2 separate regions of the Homo sapiens genome follow, and region 1 is linked to region 2. Evidence: fine-mapped expression QTL. Tissue or cell type: blood mononuclear cells. Region 2 holds a variant in brackets; the other region holds the start of a gene. All regions are shown on one strand. Distances are between the middles of the regions.

The links. PIP is the estimated chance that this variant, and not a neighbour inherited with it, causes the effect.
Region 1: it holds the start of BTBD6, and the variant in region 2 is fine-mapped to the expression of BTBD6 in blood mononuclear cells (TOPMed, PIP 0.94).

What each region holds. Positions count from the first base shown.
Region 1 is chr14:105,246,998-105,249,675 of GRCh38, reverse strand. It overlaps BTBD6 (BTB domain containing 6), which reads right to left and starts at 1,143. Exons shown (of 4, transcript NM_001387567.1): 1 at 591-1,143; 2 at 429-519; 3 at 198-316; 4 at 1-36. The coding sequence starts at 964. The region is part of intron 5 of BRF1 (BRF1 general transcription factor IIIB subunit); the gene reads left to right. RefSeq lists silencers at 542-591, 792-1,351 and an enhancer at 727-1,517.
Region 2 is chr14:105,114,771-105,117,448 of GRCh38, reverse strand. No RefSeq gene overlaps it. Among named protein-coding and RNA genes, the nearest start is that of LINC02298, 22 kb to the right of the region's middle. The variant C/T (reference allele first, on the strand shown) is at 1,575.

The DNA of each region.
Region 1 (2,678 bases), 130 kb before region 2:
TCGGCTTCCAGATCGATCTCATCACTGTACATGTACCTAGGCGAGGCAGGGCCCGCGTCAGGGGCTGGCTCCCAAGCACCCATCGCGGGGCTGGGCCTGGGAGAGGAGTCCATCAGCTCCTGTGTGCTTCCCTTCAGAAGCCTCCGGAGGCCGCCTAAAACGGACCCACCCGTCCCTCCCCAGTAGAGTGGACTTACTTTAAGAGGATCAGAAAGGCTGCGGGCTCCACGTCTGGAATGTGAATTTCAGATTTGACTTCCGCCAGGTCTCCGTAGAACATGGCATAGAAGACGGAGCTGCCGACAGCCAAGACGTACTGGGAGGAGAAAGCGCCGCCGTGAGCCTGGCTCTCCCGCAGGCTGCGTGTCAGCCACACGGCGGACGGGGCGGACGGGGCACGCGTTCCGAGAGGGGCCGCCGCTACCCACCTTGTGGGCGGGCACCGTCCTGGTCGCCCCCGGGGGCCCCACGACGAAGTGCACGTCGGCCATGAGCTCGTTGTTGAACATGAGCGCGTTCCTGCAAAGGTAGAGGCACGGGCTGGGGGCGTGGGCGCGCGCGGGCGCGGGGGCCGCGGGGCACGGGCTCACCTCTCGCGCAGCGTGGGGCGGCAGCACCGCCAGCCGGGGCTCTCCTGGTGGTTGTTGCCGAGTGTGGGCGGCGCGGGCGCGGGCGGCGGCGGCGCTGGCGCGGGGGCGCTGGGCGGGCTGCGCGGCCCGGCCTTCCTGCCCACGGCGGCGCCGGCGTTGCTGTTGGCTAGGTCCGCGGCCGCGGCGCTGGCGGGAGCGTAGAGTTCCGCCGCCATCTTCGCGGGCGGGGCGGCGGGGGCAGCCTCGGCGCCTGTGGACGCCGCGCCCCGCGCCCTCGCGCCGCGCCGGGGCCTCGGGAGCGGCTCTGCAAGCAAAAGCAAGGAGGTCAGGCACTGAGCGACGCGGCCGTGCAGGCAGGCTAGGGGCAGCAGCATGGGCGGCGGCGGCGCTGTGACCCGCGGGGCTGCCACCCGCTCCCCTGCCACCCCCGCCCCTGCGACCCTGCCCGAGCCCAGCCTAGCGCAGCCCGGCCAGGCCCGGCCGCGGGGGGCGCCGTCCCGCCCGCCCGCCCGCCCGAGCCCGTACCCGCCGCGGCGCCGGTGCGTCACGCTGCGTCAGGGCCGCGCCCCGCGCGACGTCGCTGCCTCGCGGCCCCGCCCCCAGGCCCGACATCCTCGAAGCTGCTCGAGCTTCTGCCCAGCAACCGGCGCGAGCCGCGCGCTGTGCAGAGGTAGCCGTGGAAGGCGGCTCCCGGCGCTGGCAGGCGGCCGCCCCCAGACCCGCAGTGCCATGCGCAGGTGCTTGCGCCCGTTCTTCAGTTAGCGATCTTTTGGTTAGGAACGCAGGTGGACCTGCTTGTTTGGCCATTTGCATTCCGGAGTCTGCCTCTGGCCGCGGCCTGTGGGATGGTCGTTGGGCTTCCTCGTTCGTTCAGATGCTTCGCGATTTAGCTTGCTACGGACGCCAGCAGCCAGCGCTTGCAGAGAGCGCGGTCCACTCTGCTCTGAGGGCTTTACAGGGGCAGGCGCTGCTATTTCCCGGCATTTTCCTCGAGGAAATAGGCACAGAGAGGTTAGTCGCGCGCTGAAGGTCACACAGCCGGCGGGTGGGCAAGTCAGGATCTGGCCCTGGGCCTGCAGCCCTGGAGCTTGGGCCCCAGGGCGCGCCCTGCCTCTGTGGCTCTGCCTGTGGATCGCAGTCGCAGGCTCGCTCCTTGTGGGGCCTCTAGCCTCCCGGCCTGGGGCTAATCCTGGGAGGTGCGTGGCATGGGGCACTGGCTTTGCTGATGAGGAGACCAGACTTCAGAGGCCGTGTCACCTGGCCTGGGCCGCACAGCTGGTGCATGCCAAGCTCGCGTGCAGACGAAGCTCCAGAGGCCTGGCTGTCAGGAGGGTTCCTCCCCGAGGACACACACGCAACCTCCTGGACCGCCAGGCTTTAGACTTTTAAAACTTCCATATGCAGGAAACCCCACAGGACGCAGCCAGCATCTCGGGTCATGGGTGCACCTGTCACCGCAGTCCTGGGCTAAACAGTGAACAGGAGCTCTGTGTCTCTGTGGTCGTTACAGTTGTAGTGAATGTTCCCTGGGAGAGTCCTCTTCAGAAGATATTTGCGGTATTTTCAACAAAGGACTCTCCAGGATGGAGGAGCAACTACAAGTCAGGAAGGAAAAGGCTGACAACCCAGTTTTTTAAAAAACGGGCAAAGGACGTGAACAGACACCATGCAATGGCCCAGAGTGCACAAATCATCATTTCTCCCAGGAATGGGGTGCCCGAGCCCCCAGGCGGCTGAACTTGAGACTTGTCACGTAGTGTTGGTGGAATGCAGAGCAGCTGGAGATCACCTGCTGCAGGTGGGTGCGTAACTCCGCACGGCCAAGCCGTTTGGAAAGCTGTAGCATATGCATGAGAGTCCGGAAAGTTCCGAGAGAAAGTGTGTGGATGCACCCGCCAAGGACACACCCACCGAGGCCACAGCTGCGATTTCATAGTGTGGGACCCCACTGGCAAAGACACGCTGGCTGCTGTGGCCGTGGTTTCTGTCCCAGCCGTCTGTTTCCATAGAAAAAGGTAACGGGCATAAGCAGTTTCCAGGAGAAATACAAATGGCCAGAGTGGAGACAGCCTACATGTCCATCAGCAA
Region 2 (2,678 bases):
ATGGCAGCACAGTACAGCGGGCAGGAGGGGCACAGGCCTGTGGGCTGAGGTGGCTGCTCTGAGCTGCACTGGAGAGTCTCAGGAAACAAGATGACACAGTTGGGCTTTTCAAATGCTGAGCTCAAGGCCTGGTCAGAGAACAAGGTTTCCATCATCACTGAAAGAATCTCTTCTCTCTTAAGGCTGTTGAGTCTGGTGTGCCCTCAGGTCAGCCTCAGGGCATTATTGGGAGGTTTGCTGAATGCCAATGTAGACCGGACTTTCACCCTCCCTCAGGTCTCTTCTGTGAGAATCAGGGCATGGACTGGGAAGGTGTTGGACCCCAGAATCAGGAGGGGGGCGATGAGCTGCATACCCTGACAATCACACCAAGAGAAGTAGCCCCTGTTTGATGGGTCTGGTCCTGCATTGTTTGAAGACCTCTCTGTGACCTCACCTGATGTGGTTACTTTGCAAGCAGGTGCTGATTTCCATCCCACTCCACCACTACCAACCTCACCACTTCCAAACCTGCAATTACAATCAGATCCCGGCATGTCCCAGGGGTATCAGCACAAACCTAATTTGGGAAAAGAAGGCTTACACATCAAAAGGTTTGCAAGATTTGTCATTTATATTGTTAGAAGACTGGGGGTGTGTGTGTGGGGGTGGGTGGCTTCTGCAAACACTAGACCTGGGAGGGAAGCACAAACTTAAAGATTAGAGTCTGTTGAGCTGTGTGCATTTACAAGAGATTCTGAATTCAATATTTTTAGTTCAAGAAGCTGGAAGTGGCCGGGCGTGGGGGCTCATGCCTGTAATCCCAGCACTTTGGGAGTCCGAGGTAGGCGGATCACGAGGTCAGGAGATTGAGACCATCGTGGCTAACACAGTGAAACCCTGTCTCTACTAAATATACAAAAAATTAGCCGGGCATGGTGGCGGGCACCTGTAGCCCCAGCTACACAGGAGGCTGAGCCAGGAGAATGGTGTGAACCCGGGAGGTGGAGCTTGCAGTGAGTGGAGATTGCGCCACTGCACTCCAGCCTGGGCGACAGAGCAAGACTCCATCTCAAAAAAAAAAAAAAAAAAAGAAAAAGCTGGAAGTGTCTCTAACATTTTTCTTCGTTGGTTGATTGAAGCCTGAGCTCCAGAGTCACCTCCATCATTGGAGGCTGAGCCGCTGAAGTGCCTTGGCATGACATAGAGGAAGGAGTGCAAAGTGAGGAGAGAGGCACTCATCCCCTGACTCTCCCCATGAAGACCCTGAGGAAAAGCCCCTCACCACGGCCTGGGAAATAGGCAGGAGAGCAAATGCTGGCATTTGGGCCAGTCCCGAGGCTGTCCTCCACAGGTGGGAGTGAGAGAGGGAGATGCTGCTGTCAAAACGGCTCCCTGCCTGCCATGGGGATGATGGGCGACCACATCCCAAAGGGTCAGATCGTAAAGACAGAAGCAAAAATGAACGGACTCAGGTTGGTTAGAACAAATAAGTAAGTCTAGGAGCTAATTATTTGGGGATGAAATCAAAATAAAATAGAAAAGCAATGAGAAAACCCAATCAAGGAGAGAAAAGAGGCACTTGCCCTCCACGT[C/T]GCCCGCCTGGCCCTCTTCCAAGTGCACTTTCCTTCCTTTCCTTCCTGCTCTAAAACTTTTTAATGAACCTTTGCCTCTGCTCTGAAACTGGCCTCGGTCTCTCCTTCTGCCTTGTGCCCCACAGTCAAATTCTTTCTTCTGAGGAGGCAAGAATTGAGGTTGCTGCAGACCCCTACAGACTCACCACCGGTAGCTCGGATTCCTGCCACCAATAGCATATGTTGGTGCTCTGTGACTTGGGTAACTTCTGCTGTTAACATACTTTGCTGCGTGACTCCAATATGTTCCCTAGTGGTAAGAGGCCTCTATGCCTCACCTTCTTCTGCTAGAGGCATTCAACCCCCATACGCAGTTTTCTTCTCCTCTTTCTCCTGCTTACTAACCAAACCCCAGAACAATTCCTCTTGGCCATAAGTGACTCTGCTCCCCTGGCTGATTTCTCAGCTCACCCTGGCAGGTGGCTTGCCAGGGTGGAAAGGATCTTAAGGTCCTCACCAAGCAGATTGGAGGTTAGAATTTGGCCCTCCTGGGCAGGAGGCTCTCGACAGTGGTGAGGCTAAGGCCTAAACCCATGCAATGTCTGGGGTTTCCTCTGCTTTTTCAACAAAAACCAGCTCTTTTCCCAAAAACCTGCACTGCCCATTCTCCTAATTTCTCTTTGTGTTCTGAAAGGGCCTTCAGCACCCAGGCGGACCATCTACCTCTGCTTCCACCCCGTGTGCCACGTGACTTCTTAAACACACTCCCTGGCCGGGCGTGTTGGCTCATGCCTGTAATCCCAGCACTTTGGTAGGCCTAGGCAGGCAGATCACGAGGTCAGGAGATGGAGACCATCCTGGCCAACATGGTGAAACTCCGTCTCTACTAAAAACACAAAAATTAGCCAGGCGTGGCAGTGGGCACCTGTAGTCCCAGCTACTCGGGAGGCTGAGGCAGGAGAATGGCGTGAACCCGGGAGGCGGAGCTTGCAGTGAGCCAAGATCGCACCACTGCCCTCCAGCCTGGGCGACAGAGCGAGACTCCGTCTCAAAAAAACCAAAACAAACAAAAAAAAACACACACTCCCTCCTTTGGTCCCATCCCTCCTTCTGACCTCCCAACTT